3 linked regions of the Homo sapiens genome follow. The main gene of each other region encodes a partner of the protein of the gene in region 2 in a complex. Each region holds a gene or a part of one and is shown on either strand. Other genes may lie near its edges.

Region 1 (7,031 bases), on a different chromosome or scaffold from region 2:
GTGACACCTGTCTGGCACTCTCCTAACATGGGGACACTTTAATGGCTCACAAGTTTCTGTTGTTCCAGTTACAGTGGCTGGGAAAGCTGAAACATTCTGGTTTGTATGGTGGGGAGGATCTAGGGTGAATGGGTAAAAGTGATGAACAAATAAACGGGTACTAGCAAGTAAGTGGTCATTACAAACCAAATAACTACCACTTTGAGTTTTCTGATTTCTGGAATCTTTATGACTCCCTCATGGTTATTTTTGCCTTGTTCCTGTAGGTCTTTCCATAGATAATAACAACAAAATTCTTACCATTAGAACTGCCTCTGTGCTTTTCTTGGGAGAAAGTAAAAAAAAAAAAAGGGTCCTGGGAAAAACTTGCCCGATTTCATAGCTAGGCTTGTGAAAAGGAAGGTGATAAGTCAGAAGACAGCCGACTGAATAAAGGACCTGGTGTGAGGAAATAGTACTGGGGCTTTGACCAATAGGAAACACCTATGAGTTCATCAATGCTTTTCAAGCAGCAAATAATTTAATCTTTGCCAAAACCCAGGAACTATGGCTGTGCCCTGCTACCCAAGGAGCTCCTTTTCCCTTGGTATTGGCTGATGGGCAAGGAAACCCAAGCCTAGAATGTGTTTTTTTGTTTTGTTTTGTTTTGTTTTGTTTTGAGACACATGACAAGAATATATGATACCAGCATGGCCAATACACTAGACTTTGTGTGTTGGAATCTTCTGGGACACATTCTTTTTTAAATTTTAAAAACTTATTTTGATAATTACAAACTGTTATAAGAATAGTACAAAGAACTCACTATATTCCCAATTAGTAACGGTTTGCTCTCATTTGCTTTATCACTTGCTCTTTTAGTTCTCTTTCCAAACCATTTGTTAGTAATCACTGAAATTTATTATTTGTTGTTTCTTTCAAGCCATTTGTTAGTAATCACTGAGAGATTGGTACTTATCAAGGGCATCCTGTCCTGAACAGTGGCTCAGTTGCAGCCACTGGGTATAGCAGAACAGTGGTGGTGAGGCAGGGTCCAGAGGTAGAGCAAAGTCTACCTACAGCTGTGAAGCACACAGTTTGTAAACCGTGTAGAATCTCTAGGGCTAGATATAGAAATCATTATCGATTGTAAAAGTGGTTAAGATAAACTCCACTTTTCTCACCATTCTTGTCAAGTTTGTTCTTAACTATGCCAAACTTTAATACTGTTAATGAAAATTCACTCCACTCCCCAACTTTGCAACAATAATATATTCTCCAAGATTTTCATTTAATTCATTCAGCAAACATGTATTAAATACCTTCTGTTTGCTAGGGGTATAAGAGGTGAAAGATACCCCCTTAACAGCTCAACTTCCAGTGGAAAGGAATTAAGTCATCTTCTCACAGTCAGGAGGAAGAGTGCTCTGCTGAAGGGGTTCACAGGGAGTGATGGGAGCACCATCCTGGTTAAGGATCTGAGAAGTAGATCTCTGGGAGTCATTTGGGATGGGTGTAACTATGAAGATCTGTCTTCTCTGAGGCCTGCTCTTAGATGACAAGGTTCATGAGTTAGAGAAGCCTTTGGTGTCATATACCCAGCACAGGCTGTGAGGTCAGGCCAACTTGGATTCAAATCCTAACTCTACCACTTGCTCTTGGCCAGTTATTTAACTTCTCTGTGCCTCAATTTCTTTGTCAAACCATATCTCTGAGGGTGGTAGTGAGAATTGATCAATGCTCTGTAAACATTCATTTCATCTTACTCTACAAAAATGCAATGTATGGGGAAATTGCCTGAAAAGTAATAGGTATTAAGGTGGGATCCAAGCTGGTGGGGGCGGGTGGGGGTGGCTCGGTGTGTTTCTATTTTTTCAACAAATAAATATCTAATTGCACTAAGAGCTATGATGGACATTACCATATAGGATAATAACAATAACAGCAGCAATGATTTCTTAAACATTTCCTGTGTCCCGAGTACTGTGCTAAGTGCTTAACTAACAGAGGATCTCTCTCTCTGAGGTGTGAGACTCAGAAAGGTGAAGCAAAGGTAACTTGCCCAAGGTCACGCAGCAAGTATAAGGTAGAATGTCCCTGTGAGGGAGACCAGCATGGTGCCCTGAGCCTTGAGAATGAGCAGGAATAAGCAAGGTAAGGGTTAGAGAGAAGGGATTGCCAGGCAGGGGTAGCAGCAGGTGTTGTGAGGGCACTGAGGTGGAAGAGAGATGTGGAAAGGATCCACAGAGGTTTGGCTAGGACTTGGGGTAAGAGAGATGAGGTGGGCAGGGAAAGATTGACAGGGCCTTACGGGACCTCATTAAAGAGCTTGTGTTTTATTCCAAGTACAATGAGAGGTGTTTCTTTCTCTCTCTCTCTCTCTCTCTAATGGGAGGTCTGTCTCTCTCTCTCTCTCTCTCTCACTCTCTCTCATCCTCTCTCTCTCTCTCTCTCTCATCCTCTCTCTCTCTCTCTCTCTCTCTCTCATCCTCTCTCTCTCTCATCCTCTCTCATCCTCTCTCATCCAGGGAAGCATATAGTGAGGCCTAAACAAAAATGGTTTAAGAAAGTCATTTCCCCTTCAGTGTCCCACCTTGCAATCCAATAGAGGCAATGTCTCTGGACCAAATGTGTAGGTCTTAAACAGTTTTTATCGACTGCCATTAACATGGCTAAAAAGAGTTTCTATGATGCTGGAAGAAGCTGGTCCTTCAGAATGCTTCTAGAAGGAGGTTTAATTAGGCTCATATAGCTGATGCTTTTTAGGCTGCATTAAGGGAGCTCTTTCAGCTCTCACTGATCCCTGTCACATGGGGAAAAAGTAGAATTGAGAGAAAACATAATTCCTGGAAACCTGAGTTGTTGTTCAGTGTTAGAAATGGAACTATCGAGTATAAGACTTTGGTTTAAATATATCATGATAAAGATACTTCAGTGACTAAATGGAAATTTTTTTATGTTTTTTGTTTTTTGCATGTGTGTGCCATCTGTGATGGCAGACAGCACATTTGTTAGAATCTGGGAAGACTTAAGTATTTTTTCAATACTTATATATTTATATTTATTCTCATCCAGGTACTAGAAGTTTTTCTGTTTGAAACTATTTCTTATCTACAGAGTAAACTTCACAGGAGGAAAACCAGTGTTCTGTTCCCCTTCCCATAAGTACTAGGCCACAAACATATTTACTTTTAAGTAGCCTGTGTCAATTAGCTTTTTGGGGGAGGGTGGTTAGCTGGTGGCTAGATGATCTGGGATAGCCTTACTCACACATCTGGTGGTTGGCAGGCTGGTTGGTCTAGGAGGCCCTAAGCCGGGATGGTTCATCTCCATTCTATGTGGTCTGCCCTCCAGCTGGCTAGTCTGGACTTACTAACATGGTGGTCTTGAAGTCACAGAGTAGCAAGTGAGAGCAAGCACCAGTGCACAAGCACTTTTCAAATGTTTGCTGTGTCACATTTGCTATTGTCCCATAAGCTAAAGCATGGAAGTGCTTCTGTGGCCAAGCCCAGAGTCATTGTGGGTGGTGACCATTCAAAGGTGTGGATACAGGGAGATGTGAAAAAATTGGGGGCCATTACTGCAATAATTCATAATAATTAGCAATGAATGTAAGCTGTTAAGCTTTGATAAATCTTGTTAAACACCCATTTCTGAATGTAGTGTATTCTAGAGACTAAATAATGTGATTGTGCCATTGGTAACACCTCTTCCACCAAGTGTGGAATGGAGTGATGGTTTTTCTGGGAAGAAGCCAAAGGCAGACAGTGTGGTTTTGGACATAGATATTCTTGTGAGTGGCTTAACTGCTTTCTGATCTTGTGTGGCTATTATCAAAGGAGTCTCTAGATTTCCTCAACCTTCCATTCAAGCATTATCACGAAAACCCTAGTGTATTAGACTCTACTAGATTTTGTGGTCAAGCCAAAAGACCGTTATTTGGGAACCACCACCACTTAAGAGATGAAAGAAACATTTGCAGTCTTTCCTTGGAACCTTTATATGATTTATAATTTGTACCTAAGAGAGGAAATCCGTATTTGAGCATTGGTAATAAGGACAAGGGATTCTCTGTAAATGTGTTTTAATTGGTTAAGATTTAAAAATCTTCCTGTGGTTGCAGTGAAAAATCCAGCATTGTACTGTGAAGTGAGTGGCCAGGAATTACCAATTTGGGGCATCAGCCTTTGACCTTTGCTTGTGAAGATCTCAGAAGTAACACTTTCCACATAACTGAAATAGGCTTCACAACAGCTTGTGGCCTGAAATATATTACATGAAAATGCAACTGGACCCCAGGAAGTATGTGTGGGAAACTATACAAGGCTCATTTTGTATGTCTTAGAGATGTACATTCCCCCAGAAAATTGCCTGGTGGTAGAATGTTAGCTTTTCTTCTTTCCTCCTAGGATAAAAATTAAAAATCTCTGACATTTTAAAAGTCAGTGACTTGAAAGAGCAATCAAAATTTATAAACACACACATCATTAGACCCCACAAACACTTCCAGGAATTTATTCAACAAATATTTGCATATTAATTGGAGTATTGCTTGTAGTAGCAAAAGATTGGTAATATCCTAAGGGTCAATCAAGAATATTGAAGACACTGATAGTTTTGGAACACGCATGACCAAGCAGGTAGAGGGTGAGAGGGAGACTTTTCACTACATAAACTTTTACGTATGTGTTTTGAATTTTAAGCAATGTGAATATATTTTCTTATTTTAAAAGTTAAATACATTTTTTAAAGAGATGATATATAGTGATGCAAAATTCCATAGACTCCTATCCGAGTTGACCTGATCAGAGCTATTCCTGTTCAAAAAAAATCTAGCCAGTTTTTCCCCCTAGAAATGCCTCACGATAGTGTACTTCTGAATTTTTAACTATAATTCTGCCTTTTCCAGAATATCACATGAGTGGAATCATGCAATATGTAGCCTTTTTTTGGTCTTGCTTTTAGTGGATTCATCCATATTATGTGAATGAATAGCCTGTTCCTTTTCATTACTGAATACTATTCCATTGTATGGATGTACCACAGTTTGTTCATTCACCTGTCGAAGGACGACTTAGTTGTTACCAGTTTTTTGGTGGTTTTCAATAGAGCTGTGGTAAACATTAGTGTACAGATCTCTGTGTGGACATAAGTTTGCAGTTTATTGGGGTAAATACGTAGGAATGGGATTAGTGGATTTTTCTTTGACAGAAATTACCAAACTATGTTCCAAAGTGGTTCTACCATTTTATATTCTCCTGCCATGAATGTGATTCCACGTATGGATGTCTAGTTGTCCCAGCACCACTTGTTGAAAAGACTACCCTTTCTCCATTGAATTGCCTTTGCATATGTGTCAAAAATCAGTTGACTATCCTTCTGTGGATCTATTTCTGGGCTCTCTGTTGCATTGATCTATATATCTATCATTTCTCCATTAACACACAGTCTTGATTATTATAGCTTTATAATAAGCCTAGAAATCAGGTAATAGAGTACTCTGGCTTTTTAAAATCTTTCTCTCAGGGTATGCTTAAGTTACTTTTTAAAAAAATTTTTTTATAGAAACAGGGTCTCACTGTATTGGCCAGGCTAGTCTCAAACTCTTGGTCTTAAGCAGTCTTCCCACTTTGGCTTCCCAAAGTGCTGAGATTACAGGCATGAGCCACCACGTCTGGCTTTTTTTGCTTTTTAAGAGACAGGGTCTTGCTCTGTCACCTAGGCTAGAGTGCAGTGGCCCCATCATAGCTCACTGCAGCCTTGAACTCCTGGGCTCAAGTGATCCTCCTGCCTCAGCGTCTTGAGTAGATGGGGCTATGGGCACATGCCACTATGCCCACCTATTTTTAAATATTTTTTGTGCAGAGATAAGGTCTTGCTATGTTCCCCGGGCTGGTCTTGAACTCCTGCCTCAAGTGATCCTCCTGCTTTGGCTTCCCAAAGTGTTGGAATTACAGGCGTCAGCCACTGCACCTGGCCTGGCTTTTTTCTTCTTTTTCAGAGTTGTAGTGGTGAGAGAGGACATCCTTAACTTGTTCCAATCTTGGAAAGCATTCCATCTCTCACCATCAAGTATGATGTTGTAGGATTTTTTTTTAATATACTGTGTTGTGCAGAAAAGAGTTAACATAGCAGACCTGAGGCTGCTGTCTTTAGAAGGCCAACGTGCACGATTGGCCCTTAGCTGGTGTTTGGGAAATTGGCTTTTCAAATGTTTAAAAAGAAAAGATTATATTCTACCTTCATTTATTCCTTTTCCAATGCTTTTCATTTCTTTATGGTAATCCAGGTTTCCTACCTTGATCACAGTCTTTCTGCTTAAAGAATCCCCTTTAACCTATCTTTTGAGGGCAGATCTGCTGGCAGTAAATTCTCTGTTTTTGGTTGTCTGAGAAAGTTTTCATTTTCCTTCACTTTTGAAAGGACACTTTTGTGGGTTGACAGTTGTTTTTCCTCTTTCAACATAGTACTCCACCATTGCCTGGCTTACGTGATTTCTGATGAGAAGGCTGCTGTAATCCTTTTTTTTTTTTTTAATACCTTAAGTTCTGGGATACATGTACAGAATGTGCAGGTCTGCCACATAGGTATATATGTGTCATGGTGGCCCGCTGCACCCATCAACCCGTCACCCACTTCAGGCACCTCTCCCAATGCTATCCCTCCCCCAGTCCCCCATCCCCCAACAGACTCCAGTGTGTGATGCTCCCCTCCCTGCGTCGATATGTTCCCATTGTTCGACTCTCCCACCCATGAATGAGAACATGTGGTGTTTGGCTGTCTGTTCCCGCGTTAGTTTGAGGCTGCTTTAATTCTTATCCTTGTTCCTCCATAGTTAATGTGTCTTTTTTCCTCTGACTACTTTGAAGATTTTCTTTTTGTCTTTGGTTTTCAGCAGCTTGAATATGATATGCCTAATTGTGGCTTTTAAAATTTTTTCATTTTTGTCCTGCTTTGTGTTCTCTAAACTTTATTATATCTGTGGTTTGTTGCCTGTCACTAATTTTGGAAAGTTTCTCAGCCATTATTTCTTCAAATAATTCTATCTTGTT
Region 2 (7,000 bases):
CAAGTCTGGGCTTTTAGTGCTGTGACTAGAGCACCTTGGTTCTCCTATGCATCGTCTCTCACCATTCAGTAATTTAGCCCAAGCTTCTCGTTTGGAAACGTGTCAGCTTATTTTCAAGAGCAAAAGTGGAAGCTGCCAAAATATCACTTCCATATCCTATTAGTCAAAACAAGTCACAAGTTCAGCCCTCACTGTAGAAAAAAATAGACCTTATTGGAAATAGCACGTGCACAGAGGATGAGAGCAACTGTTGGTGGCCATCTTTGGAGATGATCTACCACACCTCTAAATTTGTGAGATAAGAGTGTAGGTTTCTGATAACTTTGGAATTGAATGTATGGTAAGCTGTTTGCAGAAACAAATGTCCAATTAAGAACAAAGACTGGTTTCTTGGAATGAACATGACTTGTCGAGGATAAAGATGTTTATATCTCACATGGAACATTTGTGAGGAGCCATGGAGCCAGAGTTGTACAATAGTACAGGTTATTTTCTCCATTCTTGGGCACAAGTAAACAAATCCGCAAACCCCCAAATGGTAACAACATGACCTGGACTTAAAGGTATTGCACAAGAGGTTAGGGGCAAACTGATGTTTTGGCACCAGGGACATTTCTCATCGCTGGGCAATCCTTTGTTTCCTTCTTGGTGACATTCATTGGGATTTTGTTGCAGATACCACACAGGAAGAAGGCTATTAAACTGCCCCTATCAGCAGGAAACAGTCTGGAGGAGGCAGTCACACATAATTTTGTGAAAGAAAGTGCTGAGGCAAAACCAGCTGAGGTCCGATTCCATGATCCCAATGAACAGCAAAGCAAAGGGTGGCTTCTAGAAGTCCTAGCACACATCACATACTATCATTCAGCAAAGTAGTTTTCATATTTTATTCTCATGACATTCAACACTTTGATATGCTGTACATATGTGCACCTGTGAGACACAAGAGGTAGAGGAAACTAATGCTGAGAGCCTCAGTGAGCCAGGCCTTCTCCCTGCTGCCATTCTTTTCACTTGATGGGATTGGTTATTTGAGCTTGAGCACACTAAACTAGTTGAGGGTTGTATGGTAAAAGGATTCCTGCTGTCTCACTGGGGCTTTTTCTCAAACCAGGGTTTCTTAACTCCATGTCCAAGAATGGACTTCAACGGCACAATTTCCTCAACTATAGACAAATGTGTGCATATTTACAAGGGTGATTTTTAAAAATCCAGTGCTTTAATTAGAGTCTCAAGGACAGAAGAAAAAAGTGGTAAAAGGATCATGGCTGAGCTGTGCTGCTTGATCCTGGTACAGCTCGAGACTTTGTTTTGACCCACCCCACCCAGAACTATAGGGACAAATCAGTACAAATCAAAGTTGAGGACAAGTCAAAAGCATCACCTTGTCATTTAAAGGTTATACCACACTGTTAAAAGTTACTTGGCTGGGCGCAGTGGCTCCTGCCTGTAATCCCAGCACTTTGGGAGGCTGAGGTGAGTGGATCACCTGAGGTCAGGAGTTCAAGACCAACCTAGCCAACAGGGCAAAACCTCATCTCTACTAAAAATACAAAAATTAGCCAGGCGAGGTGGTGGGCACCTGTAATCCCAGCTACTTGGGAGGCTGAGGCAGGAAAATCGCTTGAACCTGGGAGGCAGAGGTTGCAATGAGCCTAGATCACGCCACTGCACTCCAGCATAGGTGACAGAGTGAGACGTCGTCTTAAAAAAAAAAAAAATGGCTGGGTGCAATGGCTCACGCCTGTAATCCCAGCACTTTGGGAGGCTGAGGCGAGTGGATCACGAGGTCAGGAGATCGAGATCATCCTGGCTAACACGGTGAAACCTCATTCTACTAAAAATACAAAAAATTAGCTGGGCGTGGTGGTGGGCACCTGTAGTCCCAGCTACTCGGGAGACTGAAGCAGAAGAATGGCATGAACCCGGGAGGCAGAGCTTGCAGTGAGCCAAGATCGCACCACTGCACTCCAGCCTGGGTGACAGAACGAAACTCCGTCTCAAAAAAAAAAATTACTTAATATGACTCATTATCCCCAGATAAGAAATGGGAAAATAGCATGGAAGCATCAGGTGACCAGACCTCATAACAATGCCAAAAGTATGGGATTTGGACTCAGGGAAGCAAGGCTCTCTCATTCTATTGCTATGACACAGCAGCAAGACCACTATGAGCCTCAATTTTTCATCTAGAAGAAGACTATAATATCCACCTTACTGTGCTGTGGTGAGGAATGAAGAAAACCATGGAAGTAAAGGGACAGTGCTTACTGAACAGTTTATTCCTAAATCAGAAACAATGCCAGAATGAGGCACATCTTTTGCTTCCTGGTTTAGCTCTGTAGCCCCCTAAACTTGCTGCTTCTAAAGCCAACTAACATCAATCAATTCTGTTTTTTGTTTTTGAGACAGGGTCTCACTCTGTCACCCAGGCTGGAGTGCAGTGGCATCATCTCAGCTCATTGCAACTTCTGCCTCCCAGGTTCAGGCGATTCTCGTGCCTCAGCCTCCCAAGTAGCTGAGACTACAGGCATGTGCCCACGTCTGATTTTTCTATTTTTTGTAGAGCTGGGGTTTCACCATGCTGCCCAGGCTAGTCTCGAATTCCTGGACTCAAGCGATCTGCCCGCCTTGGCCTCCCAAAGTGCTGAGATTACAGACTATTACAGAGCTATCACAGCTGGCTTAAAAATCAGTCCTTTTTACTGTAATGAGTTAATTTGGTTAATAATTAAAAAATAATAAGAAAAAATATAAAAAGAAAATCCTTTTGCCTGAAAGTTTTCACCAGTTTCATTATTATCCTTGTAATGGAAGCCATTAGAAACAAATCCAACTAGAAGGGAGAGGATGATTCATCATTAAGGAATCAAAAATAGTGGAAGAAAACGGTAGAGGGGAGGGTGCAGGCTATCAAGGTAGACAGACCAGAATTGAAGTTTCTGGCTTTGCTGCTTACTTCCACCTTGGATTCCAGGTCTCCTTTGGCAAACCAGTGTACCCATCTACTGTACAGGGCTAATATGAGGGTCAAATGAGGCAGTATGAAGGTACAGTGACAACCATATGGGAAGCAACCAATAGAGTAGGTACTTCCATTGAGCAGGTTTCAGGAATAATTTCAGACTTTTGCTCTTCTAATAAAGGAGCTTAAGCAGCTAAGCTTCTGTTATGCAGATAAGAGGGAGTTAAAAGCTGGGTGCAGAGGCTCACGGCTGTAATCCCAGCACTTTGGGAGGATGAGGCGGGTGATCACTTGAGGTCAAGAGTTTGAGACTGGCCTGGCCAACATGGCAAAACCCTGTCTCTACTAAACATACAAAAATTAGCCAGGTGGCCTGCACCTGTAATCCCAGCTACTTGAGAGGCTGAGGCAGGAGAATCACTGGAATCCAGGAGGCAGACATTGCAGTGAGCTGAGATCATGCCACTGCATTCCGGACTGGATGATAGAGTGAGACTGTCTTTTTTTAAAAAAAAAAAAAAAAAAAAAAAAAAAAATAGGTCGGGTGCAGTGGCTCACGCCTGTAATCCCAGCACTTTGGGAGGCCAAGGTGGGCGGATCACCTGAGGTCAGGAGTTCGAGATCAGCCTGACCAACATGACGAAACCCTGTCTCTACTAAAAATACAAAAATTAGCTGGGCATGGTGACAGGCACCTGTAATCCCAGCTATTCGGAAGGCTGAGACAGAAGAATCACTTGAACCCGGGAGGCAGAGGTTGTGAGCCAAAACTGCGCCACTGCACTCCAACCTGGGCAACAGAGCCAGACTCTGACTCAAAAAAAAAAAAACGGAATGAAATGGGATAGTCTCATGCAAAGTTGCCAAGGCAAGTGAAACTCTGTTTCCACACCTGTGGGGGTTTAAATGAGATAATAAATCCTTTTATTTTTAGGGAGTAAAGTGGGATGGCAAAGCGAGTGGAGACCTGGGATCAGGACTGTGCAAAAAACTTCAACTGTATGGGTTCTCACCACTACTGGTCACAGTGAGTGAAACCATTCCAGCACATACAATTCCCAGCCTCCTCCTTTCCACCATACGGAGGTTAGTGCTCAGCCACCCTTTTCCTGTGCTGGGTATATCTTACATGAAAATGCAGCTATTTTCAAAAAGAATAATTTCAACCTGCGAGAGAGTCAATAATTAGAGGTGACACTGCTCAATACTGGTGAATGAGCTTGGAGATGAGAAGGAATGTCTGTTCCCATCTCCTACAGGCATCAACTGTACCCCCATATATCCTAATTTCCTATTGGTTCCTTTGCCCCTAAAATCAGTGGAAAATGGCACTTAGTGAAAGAATGGGTAATACTGACTAATCATTGCTACGTATACTGATTAGCTGGAACCAAAGTGAGGCAGATCAAATTTGTGCCACCATCTAGAGAAGTTCAGAGTGAGCACTCCCTTGATCTTTACAGACAGCCTGTATCACAGGGAAAAACATTCCATAGCCACAAACCACATCCCTCAACAGTTTACTGCTAGGGAAAGCAAATCCCAAGTGCATTTACTATTAGTAGCAGATCGTGTGCATCATTTTCATATATAAATGAGAGCCCCCAGATGAAACAGACTTGAGCAGAGAACATGCTTTATTGAGGAGTAGATATAGAAGAGCACATTCTACCACATGTGGGGAAGGGTTTAGCTTCTGTAAAAGGCCTTTATCCCTTAAGAAAACCCCTAGTGAAGTTGCTTTTTGATAAATTTTAACAGTGACACTGAAACTGGAGGGGAGCTGCCACTGAACATGCTTAAAATTAGCTCCCCCAACCCACAGTGAATATAAGTAGTGTACAGAGATGACAAGAGAAAGGCACAAATGACCGGAGTCAGGGATTGTGGTGAGGGCTCCACATGAAGACAGCATGTTGGAGGAGACCAAGTTGGGAAGGGTGACATGTCATACATCAAAAGTTGCCCCAAGATAGCAGGTTATAATGGGCTAGAGAGAAATTAGAGGGAACATCTCTTCCTTCACTTGAACAACACCAAAAATAGAAGACCAGAGAATAGAAGGATGGTGACAAATCCCAAAAAGGAAATGGAGGAGGAGTTCGTGGAAGGGCAGAAGCACTTTAATCCTAGAGGGAGGGTGAGGCACTGTTGAAAAGAGAAGCAAACTTTGGCAGGGGTGGCCATTCTGCCTTGCTGAGTCATGGGCTGAGATACGGAAGTCACTTTCAATCATTTTCTACTTCTCCCAGGGCACTCAGACAAAATCAGTGCAAGGTATATGGAAGTACAGATGTACTGTATCAGACTAGTGGAGGTGAAAAGGTTTCTGCAGTATAATTAACCAGTTAATATGCAGCATGAAAGGGAAAAGTGGACATTACTTTGGCACCTGCAAACGTAAAAAGTGGGAGTAAAGAGAGAAGGAAATATTTACTAGTGAGTACTTTACGGTGAGGCAAAAAGTAGTATCCGTTCCCTTTCACCAAGACACTGCCCACTGCCCACTGCCCACAGGTGAACTCAAATCAAACCCAGAACCACCACCCCTTCATTCTTCTCTCCATCTCATTCAGATCAATTATATGCTATTACCATGACTAGTCCCTGGGAAACTCTTCAAAAGTATTTGGCTCTGGTTAGCCCAATACAGATCAAAAAGAGGTCTCTTAATCAAAATGAAGAAATTTAAAGCAAGATGGAACCCAAAGTGAATGGACCCCCTGCCAATCCACACACACTCACAAGTGCCACCTTTTCCCTGCCCCTCCATAGAACACACATATAAGGAGTAACTGGAAAGGTCCTGGTGGTGGCAGCCATATTTGGAGGTCTGGTGACCAGGTGGCAAGCACTAGTACCACGCTTAGAAGACACAACACAACCTCATGGGGCGAGAGGACATGAGGAGAGAACCAGTGACTGGACAGGTACAGTACCATAACAGAACTCCTTGGGTCAGTGCTGAGAGACCTGCACTCAAGTCTAATACAGATCCCATCCAGGCAACCTCACTGAGGCCGAAACAACAGTTCCTCAGAACCAGCGTCTGCAGTGTACACAAAGGTCGGAGCCAGGACAGTCCTGAGGGGGATGGCCTTCCCAAAGGATACTGTACTTGCCAATCACAAGAGCAACAGAGAAATGACAGACAGATCCCTAGGGTACGGATTCCTACTGCTGGGGTTCGCTGGCTCGGAATGACAGGTCACTTTAAGTGCCCTTGGGAGGGGTCCATTTTAAGCAGCTGGGATCCATGGTTTTATTGGAGTTGGACCTTTTGGCCTCTTTGGCTATCCACTCATCAATCAGGTCCTGAGGGAGAACAATGGGAAAAAGGATTACATACTTTCAACTCAAGTGCCTTTACATAGATTCCAAAATAACTAACCGCCAAGAAGGAATTGCCAAAGGTTTAACAACATATTAGGGTATCAAAAAAAATACTATATTTTGACTTATAAACTGCTTTCCTATCTAATCCATTCTTCCTACTTTACCCTCAGTGAGAAATGAAAATCATCGCTCACCGACCTTTATTGTATATATGAAATAATTTAAAAAATTAGATGTGAGTTTGAGTTGAGACAGCATTTGTGAAGATTCCTCTACAGATGGGCAATTTCCTCCCACCTAAGAAAAACATCAAATGACAGAAATGCTGTACAACATAAAGCTGCTTAACTGGAGCTGCTTAACTTGTGTCATCCAAATTTGAGACAGGAGCTTATCAAAACCTTCTGATAAGGATAAGGCAACACAGGCATCACTGCCAGCTACAGAAATGAGACCCAGTAAAAGGGGCGTGTAGCCCAACTCCTTTAAGGGAAGGTTCTCCAGTCTTAAGGCCCATACTTTGCTCTGCTAAGTCTTGAAGGACATCCAGCAATGAGCAAGCCCCTGATGAGAACCTTACCTGTCTCTTTAAAACTAGGTGTTTTCCCTTCCAGTATTTGAGCATCTGAAGGGCTTGCAGAGTGCTGACAATGTCCACAGGATTCACAGCCGTCTCCTGACTGATTTCTGAAACAGAAG
Region 3 (7,360 bases), on a different chromosome or scaffold from region 2:
GCTGCAGAACCAAATGCTTTTCCACTCAAAACAACAGCCAACAGCACTTGGGGCAACCTAGAGGGCTCCAGATCAAACAAACATCCCTTCCTCTACCATGCAAACTTGCTCAATAAATTATTCGCCCACTTCGGATCAAAGCCTGTTTTTGCAGCCTGTGACCCAAAAAGCAAATAGCATCTCTTAAACATGAAAGCCCTCCTCCCTGCCTGGGTCAGCTTTATTACTCATTCCTTCCCCCTTATAGTTATTCTGTTGTTATTTTCCTCCTCTGCTTGTTAGATGGCTCTGCGAGTCCCAGCCCGTCTAAGGAAGATGGGACAAGACGGACGGTGCGTTCATCTGGGGCCCTAAGGTGAGAAAGAAAGTCAGGGTAGGGGAGAAGCCCTGGGAACCCAGGAAACAAAGCCAGGCCCGGTTGGCAGCTCCATGCCGAGCCCTTTTGCCAAATGTCCTACTGGGAATTTTACCAGTGAAGGGAGGGAGTTAATGCCACTCCGAGAGGAGGGGCCAGGCGGCCCTACCACCTCCCAGGTCCAGGAATCAGTTTGCAAACATAAATGCTAAGGGGGCGTCCTGACAGCCTGTCTGGGATCAGAGCTCAGGGGTCCTCCTTCCAACAAAGGCAAGGCAGCAGGTCCCACTCAGCCCCTTCCTAGACGCTTTGGAACCGCTCTGAATGGAAACATGACACCTCTCGATGACCCCCTACAAACTCTGACCCGGGATACAACTTTGTGCCTCGGGATCCTGCAGAAGATGACCCAGGGGTGCTAGACGCAGCGGCGAGGTTTGGAAATCTGCAGAGACCAGAATCGCCGGCCGCAGTGTGCCTTCGGCATACGGCAAAGACACCCAGTGACCCTTCACCTCCCCCAGCCTCCAGCAAGAGGCCAGCAGCCAAGCTGGTAAAAAAGTGCCCAGGCCAGCGGCAGTGGCTGAGGGGATTGGGAGGGGAGTTGCGCGCGCCTCCAGCCCGCCCCTGGAGGCAGTCCGCGGGACCGCAGGCTGGAGGCGCGCCGGCGTGATTCCGACCGCCGGAGCCGGGAGGAGGAGCCGGAGGAGGCTGCGGGGGGCTCCGGCCCAGGCGAAGGAAGGGCAAGAGGCTGTTCGACCGGGGGCGGCGCCGGGAGGTGGGTGGGCTTAACACCCAGGTCGGGGGAGGGGTTTAAGAGACACCGGGAAGGGCAGCCGAGCCCCAGGGGCGGGTGGGGTGGTAGCTGTGTGTAGTAGGGGACAGGGCTGGGCCTCTGGAAGCTAGAGTGAAGCCTTCCTGGCTGTCTCGCAGGCAACCCCATCCTCTGGCAGAACAGCTGCGAATCGCCAAGTTGACCCCTCTCGTCCCTTGGCCGAGAGGAGAGGATGTCTCAGGACCCAGGGATGGGCGGGAAGAAACCATGGGGAGCCACAAGTCTGCACCCAGGCGGGGAGGAGGCGGGCGGGCGCCGCTCCGCAGGCGCAGGCGAGTGGGTGGGAAGAAGGGAGGGAGAGGGAGGAAGGAGGTGAGGCCGGGAAGATGCCACTGCCGGGGGCGGGGCGGGGCCGGGGATCCGGCAAAGGGACTGCAGCAGCGCTAGGTGGGGGCGGGGGCTGCAATGTCACTCATTTGAGAGTCAGGTGTGTGCGTCCCAAACGGGGTCCGCCACAAGCCGGCATCTTCCTGGTACCACCCATGGTGCAGGGCCCTAGGCAGAGGGCTGGGGACTGCGGATCCGTCCCTGAAGCGGGACGCGAACCGGCAGAGTTGGGAGAAGGTAAACAAGGGCCACGCCCCCTGCCGTCGCCCCGCGGGCGCGCACCCGCCGCTCCGGCCGCCGCCGGTACATTTCCACTCTCCCAGCGCCTCTCCCCAGCTGGACTACCGCGCGGCCCCGGAGGTGGAGGCTGCCCCCGACCCCAGTCCTCACCCCTGGCGCCGAGGCTCCGCACCCTCCACACTCACCTGGAAAGGGTGTCCCCCGCCCCTCCAAAAAAACTGTCTAATTTGTGCAGAGCCTCCAACCCCAGGAGCCGAGCATGCTGCCCCCGCGTGCAGCGCCCGCGTGCACCGGGCCGGGAGAGGGGGCGACAGGGCGGAGGCGGTGGCCCCCGGAAGGTGTCTGGGACCGGACCGGCTGCACGTGAGCCCAGCGCGAGGTCATGTGCACCGGCTCAGCCCGGTTCGGCGCCCGGACGTGCTGCGTATCAACAAAATGAAACTCGGGGAGACAGGAGGGCAGATAGCTCCAGGTTCTCGGAGCCCCCGCCCGGGCCGCTCGACCTCCCCACCGTACCCATCTCCCGCCGCAGCCCCTACGCCCGGCCGGAGCCCGCGGGGAAGTTGCAGCCCTGGCGCGCCCCCGCCCGCCCGCGCCCCCTCGCCGGCCCGGGGGCGCTTTGCCGCAGTCATTAATAAAGAAGGTCGCCAAGCTCACCCTTCCAAAAGTTGTTGTTGCATGCGCCCCTCTCAGCCTCCCCGCACTGTACTCTTTAAAACACGACTGACCAACATGCGCAATCTCTCTCCCCTGTGCTGTGCATCCCCCCCCTCTCCGCGCTGGCTTCCTAGAACAGGCAGCCAGCAGGAGAGAGAGGGAGCGAGCGAGCAAGAGAGAGCGAGGGAGCGAAGAGCGCTGGCAGATCTGTTGCAAAAACGCCAAATAACGTCGTGGAGATGCGCAGGGCCCATCCGCCGGGGGCTGGATCTTACCTTGCTCCGCGGTGCCCCCCTGACGGGCGCTGCCCTCGGCTACGCGCCGCTGCAGGGACCGGCGCGGGAAGGATGCTCCCGAAGCCGGGAGCTCCTGGGGCCGGCGCGGGAGGGCGGGGGGCGCGCATCCATCCGGGGTCGCGGCGAGGGAGGCGGCCGGGCCCGCGGCGTCCCAGGCCCCACGCCCCCCGCCGGGGACGGTCGGCCCGCAGGACCTAAGCCGGTGCCGCTAGGAGTGGGCGCAAAGTAACTCCATGGACGCTACTCACCCCCCCCAAAAAATAGCCTCCAACTGCGATGGCCGCGGTCGGCACCATTCACCAACCCCCTGTGTATGTTTCTGTTTCTTTTTAAACCAAGACTTCCTTGTGATCTCTTTAGAAAAAAAAAATGTGTTGGGGTGGGGGTGGGGTGGGGGCGGGCAGGAGGAGCGAGGGAGGGGGAGTAGCCACTTTTTTCTTATTCACTCGGATCTCCGCTCCCGACACCCCCGTCGCCGCCCCCCCAACCCCCCGCCCAGTTGTTTGGCTCCGGCGGGGAGTCCAGGTAGCGTTGCGGGCCCCGTGGGGGAAGGGTGCCCTCCCTCGCAGCCCCACCACCACGCCTGCTGGCACCCTGGGCCCGGACTCCCCATGGACTCTGGGGCGCCCCTAGCCCGCCCTGTCCCCAGGGCCGGGCCCGAGCGGCGGCTGCGCCCGTGCAAGTCCCATCAGGTCTGCTCACACTTCACACACTCACACACATACCCCGCCCCTCCACTCTTTCACTCACACTTTCTGCTCACACCCCGCCCCCTACGCGCCCCAGACCCGGGCGGCGCCCCCCGCAACCTTAAAAAAAAAAAAAAGCGAGCTTATACTTAAAAAAATCTTTTGGCGCCATATTAATGACGTACTTAAAATTTGCCATTTCTCCCTGCGTCAAAAAGACGTTTCTTTGCAAATAACAGCCTGGAGGCGACACTCGCGGAGGGAACGAGGTTTGCACTGAGCACCCCGCCCCCCGGGGCTCCAGCGCTGGAAGACCCTCGCCCTAGGCCCTGCTTCTGAATCGCTGGTTTTAAAATGCGAATCGAATAAATTGCGTGGCGTTTTGCAGCACCAGAAGTGAGCAGAAAGTGCTGGCAGGAGGGGAGTGGAGGGGCGAACGCGAGTCTTGGGGAGGGGGCGCGGCCCTCCTCCCCGCACCCACTCCAAATGGAAAACTAACATTCCGGGCGGGGGAACTTGAAATTGTAGGCGACCTCAAGAAAAGAGGGGCGGTCCGTAGAGAGGGTCCCCATTGGGCTCGTCGCCCCCTCCCCCCTCCCGGGTGCCTCCTGGCGCCTAGCGCTGCCCCGCATTTCCGGGGGGTGGAGAAGGCAGTGATGAGCGGGTGGGTGGGTGGTTGCACATCCTGGCCCCAGCAGGATTTTGCCCCGGGGCGACCCCTTCCTCCTTGCTCTTCCTTCCCATTACCCCGAAAGGGTTAAAAACCGAGGGGTAACTTCCAAAGGCTGGCACATGGCGAGGAAGCGGGGCGCCCCTCTCCCCACCCTTCGCCTCCTCGCCCCTCCTCCTCCGGCTCCACTTCCCGACTTGACCTTGTGGTGCACAAACAGTACGCTCGGATCCTCGCAGTTTCTGGAAGAAGAGCCTGCGCTCGCCAGGCGGGCGGGCTGTCGGGCTGCTAGCCGGCGGTGGCGGGGCCTTGGGTCTGTTCCCGGAGCCGCGGGCCACACCCACCCAACCCGCTGCGCCCGCCGAGCTCACCTTCTCTCGAGGAAGGAGAAGGACTGGCCTCCTGGTTGGGGAGGAATCGGGGGTCAAGCTCCAACCTCCTCGGAATGCCTCTAGCTGGGGAGGGGGTGGGTCTGGCCTCGGGAGGAGGTTGTGGGGAGCCTGGCCCAACATCCCCAAAGCATCGTGGCCAACTTTTTCTTCCCCCTCATGGTCGGCTGCCCCTCAGATTATCCAATAATTTTTCAGCTCACCTTTGGCTTTGAAGGCACGTGGGTGAGTTGTGAATGGACACCGGAGTCGCCTTCCCTCTCCAAGACTGAAGATTGTTTATTCTTCCTTTCCCCTCCACCCCCTTCCATGGGAAGATAAATATTCAATTTACATAAGATGACATTTATGTGACAATTAAGAAGATTCCCCGATGGAATGTTGTGAACACATTTGCTTATAGGAGAAATAAATCTAATAATAAACAAACTCATAATAACAGCACAAATCCTCCGACAGGGCGGATTGTCTACCCAACAAAGAGGGAGATGATGAATGCTGAAATAAGCAGTTTTTGCAACAAGAAAGAAATATGAGCTCAAAGGGAGTCACTGCAACATTTCTTCTTCCTTGGCCTTCATTCACAAAGTCTGAGGAGAATTGTCTGGCAAGAGGATGGTCTGGGTATTACCTTCCAGTTAGACCTGGCTGTGGCTCTCAGTGGTCAATTGGTGGTATTTTTCTCTAGCCAAGCTCAGAGTCTGGAAACAGGTGCTGCAGACTTGGAGTGTGTAACAAAATAGTTAAATACTTAGGTTCTAATCCTGGCTTTGCATTTCAGAAGCTGTGTGATGTGGGCAAGTGAATTCATCTCCCTGGATCGCTTTTTCCTTTTGGGTAGAATGGGGTGGTTGGAGGGTTCTTGAGGCCATGTGTGCACATACACATATATGTATGTACGTACATATACAGGTGGTATGTGTAAAGCAGCAACTGGCACAGGGTGCATAGTGCTCATTAGCACCTTGCCTGGTACCTAAGTGGGTTTTTTTTATTTTGGAAGGGTGAAATTGTTCTCTGAAGCTTGATGGTCAAGGTCCAGATGTCCATTCCGGGGTGGGAGTGAGGGTACCAGTTTACAGTGGCACAGTCTAAAGAGATGACCTCCAGAGATGGATGAGGGAAGTGTGACCATTTAAAGTGCACCTGCAGTGTACTGGTCACTTTGTGAGCCATTCTATCTCATCCTCCCCCAAACCCCTTCCTCCCTTTTCAGAAAGGTTTAGTAACTTACCACAGCCACACAGCTAGTAAGTGCTGGCAGAATTGGCTCCTAGGTCTAGCTGACCTTGAGACCTATGTAGTTTCTATTTTACCACACTGCCAGAAATAAAAAGTATTACTATTATTGGTTTGATTGGGGATGGGGGGATCTGATTGCTGTCTTGGCAAGAAAGAATTTTATGAGCAGCACTTTGCTTCTGAGGTGGTTCCCTGACTTGGGGTGAGACCCAGGCCTTCTAATGAGCCCTTGAAAATACCTCTTGCTTAGGACTGGAAGCCCTATCAAAATCCTTGGATTCCCACAGTTCTCTGCTGCTGTTTAAGGTTAACCTTGGAAGCTTTAACAGAATGATAACGATAAAGCTAATTGTAACTCCTTAATCTTTATTAAAAGTCTCACAAATCATTCATTAACTTTTTTTTTTTTCCTTTTTCCACAATCTCTGCTTTGGACGTAATCATTCATTAACTTTTTACAGGAAAGAAATGAGAAGAAAGAGAGTTCTTGGAGATGTAATCCTTCATTGTTTTTCAACAAGCCTCCCGTATGCCAGAGACCATTCTTGGTGTTGGGGACACAGCACACACACACACACACACACAAATAAGTAAATAAATAAAATAAATGAGGAGCAGGGCAGGGAGAGCATCAGGAAAAATAGCTAATGCATGCTGGGCTTAATACCTACGTGATGGGATGATCTGTGCAACAAACCGCCATGGCACATGTTTACCTGTGTAACAAAACTGCACATCCTGCACATGTATCCCAGAACTTAAAAAAAAAAAAAAGGTAAAAATGTTAGCTGCTAGAGTGAGCAGGTTATTAAAATTGGACATGATTTTATTCTAAACTCTAAAATATAAAAATAACTATATGTTTGAAAGTGATTAAGTGCTGTGGAGAAACTCTTAAGAAGGAAAGGGCGATACACAGTGTGGGAGTGCAATTTTAAATAAAATAGGGAAGTTCTCACCGAGAAGACAGTCTTTGAGAAGAGCAGGTAAAGGAGTGAACTGTATGTGGGAGTATGTGTGTATGTACATGGGGGAAGAGAAGCCAGCCGTTCTTAACCTGGAGACCATAGACTCTCCTCTCCATGGGTCTGTGGATAGAATTCAGAGGATCTTGACCTTAGGTGAGAAAAAAATTACAACTTTATTTTCACTAATTAAAATGTAGCGTGTCCTTCAATTATGAATACAGATAACAAATCAGTGATATTAGCAGCACCTGTGACATTACTGCTGGTAGAAATCACAGATATTTTCATATCACTTTAGAGTTGTTGCAAATATCTTAAAATATCGTTACACTTTATGAGTAATTTATTGAAAAAGTATCATTTTACTCATCACTACTTCAAAATCATGCTGCTAACTCTTATAATTTAATGAATTAATAGAGAAGCACATATATATGTTTAAATATTTCGAGAGTTGTATTTCAGTACAATTTGTTTTCTTAATGATTTGTGGAACTTATTTTATGGATTTAAAGATACTATACTCAGAAGGAGTCCACAGGTGTCACAGACTGCCAAAACAGTCCATGGCACATGCACAAAAAAGGTTAAGAACCAAGGTCTCAAGAGACCAGCAAGTGCAATGCCTCCGAGGCAGGAATATGCTTAATATGTAAATGAAAGAGATTATATAGGGCCTTTTAGGTCATTGT

What was found. The genes of interacting proteins can lie anywhere in the genome.
Region 1: KAT7 (region 2) and JADE3 share a complex: the UniProt entries of both Homo sapiens proteins name them as parts of the HBO1 complex.
Region 3: KAT7 (region 2) and JADE2 share a complex: the UniProt entries of both Homo sapiens proteins name them as parts of the HBO1 complex.

Annotation. Positions count from the first base shown.
Region 1 is NC_000023.11:46,915,421-46,922,451, forward strand, and holds part of JADE3 (protein Jade-3), read left to right. Parts: intron 1-7,031. UniProt on the Homo sapiens protein: Scaffold subunit of some HBO1 complexes, which have a histone H4 acetyltransferase activity.
Region 2 is NC_000017.11:49,826,681-49,833,680, reverse strand, and holds part of KAT7 (histone acetyltransferase KAT7), read right to left. Parts: intron 6,989-7,000; coding exon 6,882-6,988; intron 6,281-6,881; coding exon 6,179-6,280; 3' UTR 1-6,178. UniProt on the Homo sapiens protein: Catalytic subunit of histone acetyltransferase HBO1 complexes, which specifically mediate acetylation of histone H3 at 'Lys-14' (H3K14ac), thereby regulating various processes, such as gene transcription, protein ubiquitination, immune regulation, stem cell pluripotent and self-renewal maintenance and embryonic development.
Region 3 is NC_000005.10:134,521,341-134,528,700, reverse strand, and holds the start of JADE2 (E3 ubiquitin-protein ligase Jade-2), read right to left. Parts: upstream 3,032-7,360; 5' UTR 3,007-3,031; coding exon of another isoform or gene 2,959-3,006; 5' UTR 2,690-2,958; intron 2,594-2,689; exon of another isoform or gene 2,415-2,593; intron 2,070-2,414; exon of another isoform or gene 1,943-2,069; intron 1-1,942. UniProt on the Homo sapiens protein: Scaffold subunit of some HBO1 complexes, which have a histone H4 acetyltransferase activity. Acts as an E3 ubiquitin-protein ligase mediating the ubiquitination and subsequent proteasomal degradation of target protein histone demethylase KDM1A.